2 linked regions of the Homo sapiens genome follow. The protein of the gene in region 1 interacts with the protein of each later gene in a biochemical or structural test. Each region holds a gene or a part of one and is shown on either strand. Other genes may lie near its edges.

What was found. Proteins that work in one complex are often made in the same cells at the same time.
Region 2: of the proteins of FOXL2 (region 1) and LATS1, one has a biochemical effect on the other in vitro, tested with the Homo sapiens proteins (one study listed by BioGRID).

The regions. Positions count from the first base shown.
Region 1 is NC_000003.12:138,944,138-138,951,009, forward strand, and holds FOXL2 (forkhead box protein L2), read right to left. Parts: upstream 3,001-6,872; 5' UTR 2,586-3,000; coding exon 1,455-2,585; 3' UTR 87-1,454; downstream 1-86. Other genes in the region: FOXL2NB (FOXL2 neighbor protein), read left to right, coding at 5,534-6,106. UniProt on the Homo sapiens protein: Transcriptional regulator. Critical factor essential for ovary differentiation and maintenance, and repression of the genetic program for somatic testis determination.
Region 2 is NC_000006.12:149,708,085-149,715,111, reverse strand, and holds part of LATS1 (serine/threonine-protein kinase LATS1), read left to right. Parts: intron 1-7,027. UniProt on the Homo sapiens protein: Negative regulator of YAP1 in the Hippo signaling pathway that plays a pivotal role in organ size control and tumor suppression by restricting proliferation and promoting apoptosis.

The sequences.
Region 1 (6,872 bases):
TTCTGAAAAAGATAAAATTTTGCTGAAAATCTTCCTCTTTTAACTAGCTGCTGAACTAAGGAGCGACAGAAATAAAGAAGTCCGTGTTAAAAGAAGGAACACAAAATTTATTCGGGAATCGACAAGGCAAAAAACAAAAACAAAACAAAAAAACACAACAAAAGTGCTCTAGTTCTCTCTAGAAAATTTGGTCCCCCAAACAACAAGCTACAGTACAACCAGGTCTATGGTTTTCGGGCCGGGCCGGCTCCGGGCCACAAGACCGCCTAGGTCGGCCGCTGCCGGGTTTCACATTTCTCCTTCCCAAGGTGGGAGAAGCAGGAGGTTTGAAAAACAAAAAGCAGGGAGGACGAGCCGTCCCAGCAGCGTGGGCCAGGCAGGCAGTGATCTCCCTGCCTCCAGGACTTGCATCGAAAGATCCGGGGACATTTGTTTTTGATTTTTTTCTTCAGATAGGGAGAGGGTGAAACTTCCCCAATTGGTAGACGAAACCATCTTTTATTGGATATATTCTCCTAACTCTGAACACAGCTTTTTGAAGGCCCAACAAAAACTCTAACGCAAATCTTCCAGAAGAGAAGATGAGGAATACTAAAGCTTTTGATTTTCATATTTGGATTTAGCAAACTCCAAGGCCACAATACTTCCCCGGTTGCCCGGTGAATTTTTTTTCCTTTTTTTTTTTTTAAATACTCTCTTAAAAAGTTCCACCGATCTTTCAAACAAAACATTAGCCAGCCGCCGGGGCCCGGAGGTGCCCGAAGCGACGGGACTGATAGCGGAGGAAACGCAGCCTCCCTCCGCGCCCGCCCGCGGTGTAAACCGAGTACAGGCCGTGGAGCCAGGCTGCCCCGGCTCCCGCTGGGTCCCAACCCCCGCCCCGCCTAGTGGGCCCCGCGGCAAGCGGCTTCTGAACAGCTTCAAGAGGGTTCGCGGAGCAAACACACGTATTGGTCCGTCCCTTTCTCGGGCAGCGCGGTCCCGCCATCAGTCCTGTCCGGCGCGTCTAGCCATGGACTGCACGGCAGTCGGGCGGGGAACGCGGAGAGCGAGCGCACCGACCTGTGAGAGAAGGCCAAGAGGTCTGCGCTGCCGACGCCCGGTCGCACCTCCGCCCCGGGCCCTTTCCGCGGTGAATTTGGGCAGGAGACGCTGGGGCTCCGGAAAGAGACGAGCCCAGTAGAAAGCGCGCAGAGAGGCAGCTTCAGGCCAGGGGAGTGCAAGGTCACAGAGGTCAGGGAGGTGAGCACAGGAGGACATAAACTGAGGGGACAAAGAGGAGCGACAGGAGCTTAGGAAAGCGAAAAAGCACAGAGGGACCCTGGGCGCTGGCTCCAGAGGCGGGCCCAGAGGGTGTGAGGTCAGGCTGGCGGCGGCGTCGTCGGCTGCGACCGGGGCCGGCGTCGCGCGTCCCTGCATCCTCGCATCCGTCTGCACCGGCATGCGGTGGGCTCTCAGAGATCGAGGCGCGAATGCAGCGCGCCGGTCTTGCTGTCGTGGTCCCAGTAAGAGCAATGCATCATGGCGAGCTCGGGCTGCCGGGCACAAGCGAACTGCAGGCCCGGCGCACTGGTGGGCGCGGGCGCCGGGGGCGCGGCGGTGGCTGGGCTGGCAGGGCTGAGCTGGCCCGGCGGCGGCGCGGCGGCCCCGTGGTGCGGTGGGGCAGGCGGCGGTGCGGCGGCCGCGTGCAGATGGTGTGCGTGCGGATGCGGGTGGGGGTGCGGCGGAGGCGGGGGTGCGGCCGGCGGGCCTCCCAGGCCATTGTACGAGTTCACTACGCCGGGGGGCAGCGCCATGCTCTGCACGCGTGTGTACGGCCCGTACGAGGCGGCCGGGCCCGCCAGCCCCTTGACCACAGCGGCCGCGCCAGGGCTACCGGGGCCCGCGGCTGCAGCCGCAGCTGCTGCAGCCGCTGCGGCTGCCGCCATCTGGCAGGAGGCATAGGGCATGGGTGAGGGAGGCTGCGGTAGCGGCCACGAGTTGTTGAGGAAGCCAGACTGCAGGTACTTGGGGGGCGCCAGGTAGCCGTAGCCGTCGGCCCCGGCGCCCGCCACGCCGCACCCGCCTGCGGCGCCTCCGGCCCCGAAGAGCCCCTTGCCGGGCTGGAAGTGCGCGGGCGGCGGCCGGAAGGGCCTCTTCATGCGGCGGCGGCGCCGGTAGTTGCCCTTCTCGAACATGTCTTCGCAGGCCGGGTCCAGCGTCCAGTAGTTGCCCTTGCGCTCGCCGCCGCCCTCGCGCGGCACCTTGATGAAGCACTCGTTGAGGCTGAGGTTGTGGCGGATGCTATTTTGCCAGCCCTTCTTATTCTTCTCGTAGAACGGGAACTTCGCGATGATGTACTGGTAGATGCCGGACAGCGTGAGCCTCTTCTCCGCGCTCTCGCGGATCGCCATGGCGATGAGCGCCACGTACGAGTACGGGGGCTTCTGCGCCGGGTCCGGCTTCTCCGGGGCTGTCCCGCCGCCACCCCCACCGCCCTTGCCTGGGCTCGGCGGCGGCCCTTCTGGCTCCTTGACTGTGCGACCGGTCTCTGGGGCCAGCAGGGCCCCCGCCGCGTCCTCGGGCTCGGGGTAGCTGGCCATCATGACAAAGCCGGCGCGCCGCGGCCGGGCCGCCTCTGCTCTCCGCTCCAGGCGCTGGCGCGGCAAAGAGTTGGGGCGCACGAGTCCGCTTACGGCCAAGTCTCAAACTTCTGGAGACTGCGGATGCCGCCCGCGCTTGCTTGCTGGAGGCCTGTCGCTGCTCTCCCCTCTCCTTCCCCTTCCCCTAGGGAGCGGCCGGCGGGAGTGGAGCTCAGCCTCTGGCCATGGGGAGTCCGCCCAACAGAGAGGGGCTCCGGCCTCGCCGCCCCTCCCCGCTCAGGCCAGTCCCCGCCTTGGTGGGTTTTCTTTTCTGCGCTCTTCCCCTCCCCCCGCCCCCCGGTTTCCCGAAGCACGACCCGCGTCTCTGGCGGAGCTGCCTCCTGGAGTCCCTAGTGCGCCAGGAGCCTCGCTCTGTTCTGATTCGTATGGGCTCCACCGAGTTCCGCTTGCGTCAGGCGCCTTCGCCCCTATAGCGGGGCGGCCAGCCGCGCACGGGCGAGTTCATCTCCAAGTCACTTTTTGTAAACGCCCCGCACAGCCTGGACCGGCCTGCCCCCGCCCAGCGAGCCTCAGGGGCCCAGCCGACAGCCAGGCTCACGCGCCCTTGAAATCTGCCGGTACTCGCTCTGCGGGCTGGGCTGGGAGATGACGAGGACCCCGGTGGGGTCTGCCCGCACCCGGCCAAAGCCCAGGAAGCTCGGGCCCCAGCGAGGAAAGGCGCTCCAAGCCTCCTCGCGGCTTTCAGGTGAAAGAAAACGACTCCTTTGCTCTGCCGTTTGCTGCCGTCTTGAGGCTGAACTTCTAGCTCGGGGCTGGGGAGGGGCGAGACGGCGAGGGGGCTGGACGGGGTAGGGTGGGGAGAGCTGCTCTGAGGCTTTGGGAAAGTCAGCCCAGAAACGGGTGTGACTGTACGAAGAAGCCTCGGCCTGGCCTGTCCCTCGCGCTCTCAGAGTGACTGGGCTGGAATGGGGCAGGGGAGAGGATCTCTGGAAATAGTCGTCAGGGGCGCCGCCTGAATCACCTCTGCCTCTCCCTGCGTTACCAGTGGATCTAGGAACCAGGAATCCGTGTACTAATCCTACGGGGTTGGAGTGAAGGTTGGATGTGTGCTTTAACAGCACCAAGTAGATGCCCCTCAGCTATTGCACTAACACAGGCGGGGCTGTTGCCCGGGACTTTGCGGGACTGTGTATGTGTGTGCACAGGGGTCACATATGGAAGTCATGGAGAGGAGCTGTCCTTGAGATGGGTGAGATACCAGGTGCATGTGTGCTGCTCAGAAACACAGGTATGCACATGTACAAGGTGTGAGATTTGTATTTACGAGGTAAAACACACTTATACTGATAGTTATGTAATATGTTCATCAAGTATTAGAGTAAATGTAGCTGGTGGATATAGCATCTTCTCTTTTTCTCCTTTCTTACTTCTTTCCTTCCCCCCTTTCTTCCTTTCTTTCACAATTCTTCGATGCCTCTTTCCCTCCCAGTGTATGTATTTTGCCACAGACTGGGAAGACAAACATCAGGCTGAGGGAGGGACTTGTTCAAATCTCTCTCCTGATGAGACATTTGTTCTGATCTTTCTCCAAAGAATCAGGAGTTAGTTGTCACCTACCTTAAGCAGAATTCTGATGGGAATCCAATTATTTCAGCATGTACAGAGATTGTTTCAGGGAAAATCAGGTGTGCCTTTTAACAGTGTGCTCCTTAACAGTGCCTTTTAACTTGGCCTAAACAAAAAGTCTGCAGTCATAAAGTATGAGAGAGATGGCCAGTGTTTTGAATCCTCAAGCCCCAAACTCCTTGGTGCTGAGGAGGGGGGCAAGGCCACCTTATGGAGGAAGGTGGACTGAATGGATGTCATATAGCTGTGCATTAGTGATTGGCATGTCTGGAGTGGCTGACTCAATGCCTGTCACTGCCTCTTCCTCCCAGGCTGTTTAGACTCTGAGGGTTCTCCTGAAGCCCAAGGAGCCTTCAGCGGCCTGTGGTTCCAGCATCCACAGGCCATCTACAAGTGTTGTCTGCTGCTCACTCAGGCCTCTGATCTGCATTCTGAGATGAAAGGGAGGGAGGACAAGGGTGGTAGGGCTCTTTGGAATTCAGCATCTTGAAGATGACACCAGAGAGGTCAGCAGGGCAGCCCTTGCCTGGTCACAAGGATGAGAGGGAGCAAGGCTATCCCCAAAGTAGCTTGGTTTTTTTTATGGGCGGTCTCCCACTGCACCCAACAGACATGGGGGAAGCAGCACTTCCGCAGAATCCCTGCTGCTGCTTTCTGAGCAGGAGTGCAGATGTTTTTCTTCTTCCTTACCCCCATCCTTGCCCAAGCTTTGGGTGGGAGTGGTGAGTCCGGTTTGGGGCTGCTGCAGATTGGCCTCAGTGCCTATCCTCCCCCAGCCAGGGCCTGGGCAGGGGGAAAAACAGCTGGGTCTGGCCCCATCCTGGTGGGGGCTCCTCTCTCCTTTTCTCTCCTTTTTTTTTTTCTTGACCACCCAGGCTGGCTCTCTGCGTCTCTCTGTCTTTCTTTCTTCTTCTCACAGGCATTTCCGCTGCTCAGCCCTGCAGCAGCCAGGTGTAACAGCATTGTTGTGTGTGTCATCACTTCCCTGAATTCCACACTCGGCTCCCTTTTCAGCCTTTAAAGAGCCTGTGTGTGTATGCATGTGCGTGTGTGTGTGTGTGTGTGTGTGTGTAGGGGTTGGGGGCAAATGAAGGAGTTCCTCTGAAGGATTTTCAGAATAGAAAGGAGTTCTGCTCTGAAAATACTGATTTCTGACTGTCCCGTAGAGGAACAGAATCCCCAGCCCTGGTGAAGAAGAGGATGCCTGATGCGTGCACCCTGGGAAGGGCTGGAATCGGTCTCCCCAAGATGTGCCTTCACATGGCTGTCCGGCATTCGAAGGCTCAGAAAACAGGCAAGAAAATGCGGGCGGGAAAGCTGGCAGAATGATTACTTTCAGGTCCCCTCCAGGCTTCTGCGGAAAAGCCAGGGGCTTCGGGCTGGAGATAGAGGAATCTAGGGAGAGAACAGAATCCTCTCCTTGCCGGCCCAGCCAGAGGTGGGTGAACCGGGCGCTCCAGGAAACGGTGCGGGGCGCCCTGATTTACTTCTCAACCTTCGGAGGTAGGCTGGTTGCTGGCGAGGTCGGGATCCTCTCTGAACAGGGCATACTGTGCCTAGGTTTTGTGGACGCCAGGGCCGGTTCCTTTTCTCCCCGCGGCATTGGGGCGACGCAGGGCCCCCGGCTTAGTGACCTTGGGGCGGCGCTCACCTCCAAAGGCCAGGGTGGTGGGCTGGGCAGAACTCACTGCCTCTTTGCCCCAGTTTTCCAGGGTCCCGCAGCTGCAATTCAGCAGCCACCGGCGCCTCCTGACCGTGGTCCCACCGTAGCGCCGCCTGCGGATACGGTTCCAGTGAACCGCCGATTGAGCGCAGTCTCAGCTCCCGCGCCTCCTCGCAGCCTGGCCCCGCGCCTCGGAGGTCCCGACAGCCGGCGCGAGCAATCTACACGGCTCTGATACAGACGCTTTTCTCCCCAGGGCCGGGAATCCTGCAACAGCGGCAGAAGCCGCCCGCGCCTCGGGCTTCCGGCGGCCCAGCTCTACTAGGGAAGCGTCGCGGCTGCTCTGAGGCAGGCAGCGCTTCGCTAGAACCACTCAGCTCGTCCCGCGCCGCCGCCGGCTGCCTGAACCAGGTTCCGCTGTCCCCTTTCCTAGCGGGACCCCGAAACACCCGGCGGCTTCCCGCTCCTGAGCGGGAGAGAATAGAGCTTGCTGCAACCCTCTGCTTGGAGGGATGGCCTCTGCGGTGCTTGGCTAGCAAAGGGAAGCTTCACTGTGTCTATTAGTACATCCCCATACACTCCACGCCTCAACAACTGTCAGCACTCACTCCCTCCCGGCCCCTCACAGGGCCCTTTGCACCCACACCTCAGGGACTCGGTGTCCCTCCACTCAGGTCACGTTACTCCATCCACTTCTCTCTCCTTCTCCCTCTGTCAACTCCAAATCCCCTCTAGTTCTCCCTCCCCTCCTACTTCTCTCACACTCACCAGCTACACGTACTAATTCAGATTTTGCACATGTTGGTGGAAAACATGTCAAGCCAATGTGCAGACCCTAAGGCTTTTCACACGCTGCTCACTTTCGCATCTCACGGTGCAGAAGGACCAATGGGCTCCAGGTTTACAAGCCTGACTCCGAGAAGCCTGTTGATTCTCTGATGTCCTTGGCCTGTGATTCGGGTGACTGGGCTGCCACCTGGGTGTTTTCATGATGGGACTGC
Region 2 (7,027 bases), on another chromosome or scaffold:
GCGACAGTGAGACTCTGTCTCAAAAATAAATAAAGAAATAAAGAAATAATAAATAAATAAATAAAAAATAGTACATCTACATGATGAAATTCAATATCGGTATTTAAAGGAATAAGGTTGAACTATCATACTTTATCAATTCTGAAATACCACTAAATCTAAGATAAGCCATCTATTTAGTAGCAATTTTTTAGCAGGAAGAAAGTAAACATAAAGCTTTTATTAATAATAGCATACATTTATTCATTCAATTGTATACCATTTTCGTCTGTCACAATAAAGTTTGAGTCTCAGCCTTATTCACATTCAGAATCTAGGATCCTTCTGAATTACTTCGGTTAGTTAATGCAACATCATGATAACAGGCTGCTTTTCATAATGCTAGTTAATTATCTTAACCTATATTGTCTTTATGATTGTGTGTATAATTTTAAGGTATATTGAAGAATACTGGGGTTTTGCTTGCCTTTCATTTTTGCTTACTTAGTTTTTTTTTCTTCTTCTTAATTGAATTACCTATTGCTGGAAATTAAACAGCTTCTTCTGAAGATAACTCCAAAAGTTTTGGCAGACTTTTGAGTCTGTCTTACCTTTGAAAATTCTGTGATCTTGCTTGAATTTAATAATTACTTATGCCTTTAATTGCATTGTCTATTGAATGACAGTTTGAGTGCACAATACTATGTCACAATGGAATCTTTCAGAACATTTTGTGGACCAGGCATGGTATCATCCCAGTATTTTGGGAGGCTGAGGCAGGAGGAACACTTGAATTCAGGAGTTTGAGACCAGCCTGGGCAACCTAGCAAGATCTCCATCTGTATTTACAAAAATAATAATAGCTGGGCGTGGTAGCTCATGCTTGTAATCCCAGCACTTTGGGAGGCTGAGGTGTGTGGATCACATGAGGTCAGGAGTTCAAGACCAACCTGGCCAACGTGGCAAACCCCTGTCTCTACTAAAAATACAAAAATTAGCCAGGTGTGGTGGTGGGTACCTGTAGTCCCAGCTACTCCGGAGGCTGAGGCATGAGAATCACTTGAACTTGGAAAGCAGAGGTTGCAGTGAGCCAGAATACGACACTGCACTCCAGCCTGAGTGAGACAGTCTCACAAAAAAAAAAAAGTAATAATGATAAAAGAAAAAAAGAGGCCGTGCGCAGTGGTTCATGCCTATATAATCCCAGCACTTCGGGAGGCCGAGGCAGGTGGATCACCTGAGGTTAGGAGTTCAAGACCACCCTGGCCAACATGGTGAAACCCCATCTCTACTAAAAATACAAAAATTAGCCACACATGGTGGCACATGCCTGTAATTCCAGCTACTTGGGAGGCTGAGGCAGGAGAATTGCTTGAACCCGGGAGGCAGAGGTTGCAGTCAGCTGAGATCACGCCATTGCACTCCAACCTGGGCAACAAGAGAGAAACTCCTTCTCAAAAAAACAAAAACAAAACAGAAAAAAAGAAAAAACATTTTGAGCATCATATATGGTGCTGCCAATGAAAATATTACAATTGTCCGGGTATGGTGGCTCACACCTGTAATCGCAGCACTTTGAGAGGCCAAGGCGGGTGGATCACCCGAGGTCAGGCATTCGAGACCAGCCTAGGCAACATGGAGAAACCCCGTCTCTACTAAAAATACAAAAAATTAGCCGGGTGTGGTGGTGGGCTCCTGTAATCCCAGCTACTTGGGAGGCTGAGGCAGAAGAATTGCTTGAACCCGGGAGGCAGAGGTTGCAGTGAGCCGAGATGGCACCATTGCACTCCAGCCTGGGCAACAGAGGGAGACTCTGTCTCAAAAAAAAAAAAAGAAAATAATACAATTGAGGTAACAGAGATTTCGACTTTTATGTATGGTTAAGTTAGGCATGTGCAATGACTGCTACTCTAGAACTTCTCTGCTTTGGAGGGGAGATTGGACCTTGATTTATTTGGAAGGAACTCTCATCCATTGTTTTCATTATCATACTCGGCCACCTGTGAAGTGTGTGTTGGGTGAGTATTCTCTCTTTGGAAGGTACACATCTTTCTCAGCTAGCTTATTGCTCATAGAAGTTGGGGGCCCAAGGGTTGATCTTAAGATATACTCAATTTATTTATTTATTTATTTTTTCTGGGACAGAGTTTTGCTCTGATGCCCGGGCTGGAGTGTAGTGGCACAATCACAGCTCACTGCAGCCTCGACCTCCTGGGCTCAATTGATCCACCCACCTCAGTCTCTCCAGTAGCTGGGACTGCAGGTGCACACCAACATAATTGGCTGATTTTTTCTATTTTTTGTAGAGTTAGGGTCTCACTTTGTTTCCCAGGCTAGTCTCAAACACCTGGGCTCAAGAGATCCGCCCACCTCAGCCTCCAAAAGTTTTGGAATTACAGGCATGAGCCACTGCACCCGGCCCTAACTTTTAGAAATATTAAAATGTAGAAAAGCATGCTTAGAATCAAACAAACATGATACTGGCCGGGCATGGTGGCTCACACCTGTAATCCCAGCACTTTGGGAGGCTAAGGTGGGAGGATCGCTTGAGGCCAGGAGTTTGAGACCAGCCTCGTCAACATAGCGAGACCCTCATCTCTATTCAAAAAGAAAAGAGAGAATAGAAGATAAAATATGGCTGGGCGCAGTGGCTCACACCTGTAATCCCAGCACTTTGGGAGGCCAAGGTGGGCGGTCACCTGAGGTCGGGAGTTCGAGACCAGCCTGACCAACATGGAGAAACTCCGTCTCTACTAAAAATAGAAAATTAACCGGGTGTGGTGGCACATGGCCTGTAATCCCAGCTGCTTGGGAGGCTGAGGCAGGAGAATTGCTTGAACCCGGGAGGTGGAGGTTGCGGTGAGCCAAGATCGCGCCATTGCACTCCAGCCTGGGCAACGAGCGAAACTCCATCTATAAATAAATAAATAAATAAATAAAAGAAACATGACACCTAACTGTGGAAAGATGTTCACGGTATTATGTTATTCTTTTGCTAAGAAATTGGGCCCTGATTAGTGACAGAGGCAAGATTCATGGGTCCTATTATCCACATGCCCAATAATCTCTTAATCAGGTCCAGATATGGTTCCTCTTGGTCCAGGGACCTGTGAAGTAATGTGTCCTGTGTGCTGCGTGTGTGCGCACTCTCTCTCTCTCTGTCACTCACTGTGTCTCCTCTCTATCTCCCTTCCTTTTCTTTTCCCCTTACTCACTCACCGCAGTACACAAGGGCCACAGTAAGCGCTCTTCCTAGAAAAAGAGAATAATGGGAGATAAGCAGCAAATGCTGATCTATAATCTGAAATCTCCTAGGCAGATTCTGTGTAAGCAACCGGGCCTGGAGGTAGGGGAGATTGGACCCTGATTTATTTGGAAGGAACTCTCCCATCCATTGTTTTAATGATCATCCTTGACCACCTGTGAAGTGTGTGTTGTACCTTCCCTTTGGAACGTACAAATCTTTTTCAACTAGCTTCTTGCTCATAGAAGTCGGGGACCCAAGGGTTTTAAATTTTGAATAGACAAGAAGATTTTTTTAGTATGAACTTGAGATGATTTAAGAAAAAAAAATTTCATTTTGTTTTTTGAGATGGAGTCTCACCCTGTCACCCAGGCTAGAGTGCAGTGGCACAATCTCCGCTCACTGCAACCTCCGCCTCCCAGGTTCAAGCAATTCTTCTGCCTCAGCCTCCTGAGTAGCTGGGACTACAGGCACATGCCACCACGCCCAGCTAATTTTTGTATTTTTTAGTAGAGATGAGGTTTCACCTTATTGGCCAGGCTGGTCTCAAACTCCTGACCTCGTGATCCGCCTGTCTCGGCCTCCCAAAGTGCTGGAATTACAGGTGTGAGGCACCGTGCCCGGCCAAAAGATATTTTTTTTTTTTTTAACAAAACAGTTTCTTTAAAGTTAGTAAGCCTCTTCCGATCTGTTTGGTTTCCTTCAGTTCTATGTGTCAGTAACCACAGTCGAAGTTCACATGTATTGGTAAACTCATCCAAAGATTTAAGAGCGTCTATTCCTCCTCCTCTCATTTGGTTGTTTGAGGCTATTAGGTTTGATGGGAAGGCTACGTCTTTAATATGGTCTTAACCACAGAAGCACTAGTTAGCTAAGGGGTTTCAGTGGGCATCTGTGCTCAGTCTTTTAATCCTGCCTCTAGGGGTCTAGGTACAAGCTGCTTTTCCAATCCTTCAAGGCTTTAAATTTCTGAACTTTTTCTATTCTCTTCTGTTTTTGCTTTCAAATCTACTACTTCCTTCTTGAACTCATCATTTACTTATAATACTTGCCAAATATCTAATAGCAGCCAATACTCACTTCCAAAATCCTCTTTACCAAACTCCTATAACACTACAAGGTCAGTAGCCTCTTTGTATGTTCACTGACCTTGTAGTTGTATGAAAAGTTATTATAGGCAACAGCGTTACCAGATATTTTGCCACTATAAAACATGATCCTCCATCTTTCCAGCCTCCGGTATCTGTTTCCTCTCAGCCCTTAATCTGACCACTAAGGCAGTATCACTAAGGCAGGACTGCATAGGTTTTTATTGTAGCAGCACCTCACTTCCAGGTACCAGTTTTCTGTATTAGGATAATGAAACACTGAATATACAGATGGACAATGGCCAGATCATATATAAAACTAGAACTCTGACCCATGACCTATGTAGCAATAGGCCCAGTCAGGACTTGGTCAGTAATTACCAGCTTCCCTAATTTTTGTGCCTTCTTCCAATTCGGGACGACTCAGAGAAAGCCAAATATGCTTCCCAAATCAACCACATAGGATACCCCGCTTCCAGTGTCGACGAAGAGTCAAACTCTGTAAAATATTTTAAGAGATCTATTCTAAGCCAAATATGAATGGCTATTGCCCCATGACACAGCCCTCAGGAGCTCCTGAGAACATGTGCCCAAGGTGATCAGACTACAGCTTGGTTTTATACATTTTAGGGAGACATAAGACATCAATCAGTATATGTAAGATGTACATTGGTTAGGTCCAGAAAGGAAGACACCTTGAAGCAGATGGCTTCCAGGTCATAGGTAGATTCACAGATTTTCTGATTGGCAGTTGGTCGAAAGAGTTGTTACTGTCTAAAGACCTAGAATCAATAGAAGGGAGTATCTAGGTTAAGATAAGGGGTTGTGGGCAGGCACAGTGGCTCACGCCTGTAATCCCAACACCTTGGGAGGCCGAGGCAGGTGGATCACGAGGTCAGGAGTTCAAGACCAGCTTGGCCAACATAGTGAAACCCCATCTCTACTAAAAATACAAAAATTAGCGAGGCATGGTAGCGCACGCCTGTAATCCCAGCTACTCAGGAGGCTGAGGCAGGAGAATCACTTGAAACCGGGAGGCGGAGATTGTGGTGAGCCAAGATCAAGCCACTGCATTCCAACCTGGGCAACAGAGTGAGACTCCATCTAAAAAAAAAAAAAAAAAAAAAAAAAAGATAAGGGGTTGTGGAGACCAGGGTTCCCATTATGCAGATAGAATCAATAGGAAGGAATGTCTGAGCCAAGGTAAGGGGTTGTGGAGACCAAAGTTCCCATTATGTAAAGGAAGCCTCCAGGTGGCAGGCTTCAGAGATAATACATTGTAAATGTTTCTTATCAGGGTTGATTCTCTCCTGGATCAGGCAAAAGGCCTGAGAAAGGAAGGGAATTAACTTCAGAATGTAGATTTTCCGCACAAGAGACAGCTTTGCAGGACTGTTTGAAGATATGGCAAAGAAACATAATTTGGGGTCAAATACTTGGATTTCTTTCAGGGCCTGCCATCTGTCATGTGATACTATGCTAGAGTCAGGCTGGAATTGGGTATCTTATTGCTACAGAGAGTCTGTTTTGTCAGTCTTAAGATTTGTTTTAATGTTAGTGCTGGTCAGCTGTGCCTGAATTCCAACAGGGAGGAGGGAATAATGAGGTATGGCCAAACTCCGCTTCCCATCATGGCTGGAACTAGTTTTTCAGGTTAACTTTCAAATGCTCTTGGCTGGGAGGAGGGGTTCATTCAGATGGTTGAAGGACTTAGAATTTTATTTTTGGTTTACATCAGTTAGCCCACCTCCAGTTTCCCATGCCAACAACCTACAATCAGAGCATACCTGATGTCTTCCCCCTTTTTTTAGTATAAAGATTTCCCACTCCCCTGCTTGCCTTTGAATCTTTGCCAAGCACAAGTTGACAGTGGCTGACTCCCTACCTATATAGTAAGATCTAATTAAATAGCCTTTGTTTGTTTCCATTTGGGCAGTCTTTGTCTATTTTCACAATGTTATTAGGCTGTTTTGTGGTAACAAATCCCCAAATATCAATGGCTTAACACAACAGAAATGTTTCTCTTGCTCAGAGTTCAGTGGGAGTCAGTAGGGTTCTCCATCCAGTGGCTTAGGGATCCACCTTCCTTCCATATTGTCAAGCCACCATCTCAGAATGTAACCTACATTGTCATTAAAGCAGGAAAACCGAAGCAAAGTGACTTTTAACTGCCTCAGTCCAGAATTGAGATATGTTACATCTGCTCATCCAGCTTTGGCCAAATCTGGGAAATGGAGTCGAGTACTGTATGTGAATATAGTCTCTGCCAGAATATATTTACCAAAAGCAATTGGCTAAAGATATACACAATTCCTCCATTTCAGCGTTTTTGAGATCAGAAGATTTAGATTATCTTACAATTGAAATTTTTTTTTTTTTTTTTTTTGAGATCCAGTCTCGCTCTGTCGCCCAGGCTGGAGTGCAGTGGTGCAGTCTCGGCTCACTGCAACCTCTGCCTCTGTGGTTCAAGCGATTCTCCTGCCTCAGCCTTCCGAGTAGCTGGGACTACAGGTGCCTGCCACCACGCTCGGCTAATTTTTGTGTTTTTAGTAGAGACGGGGTTTCACCATATTGACCAGGGTGGTCTTGTACAATTAAAATTGAAATGAATATTCAAATGTAATGCTTCTGTTATTTCCCCTGATAAATGAAGTGACATTGTTTCATGGAAATAATAGTTTCTTTAAAATGAATCCTGTGTATTTTAATTGCATGT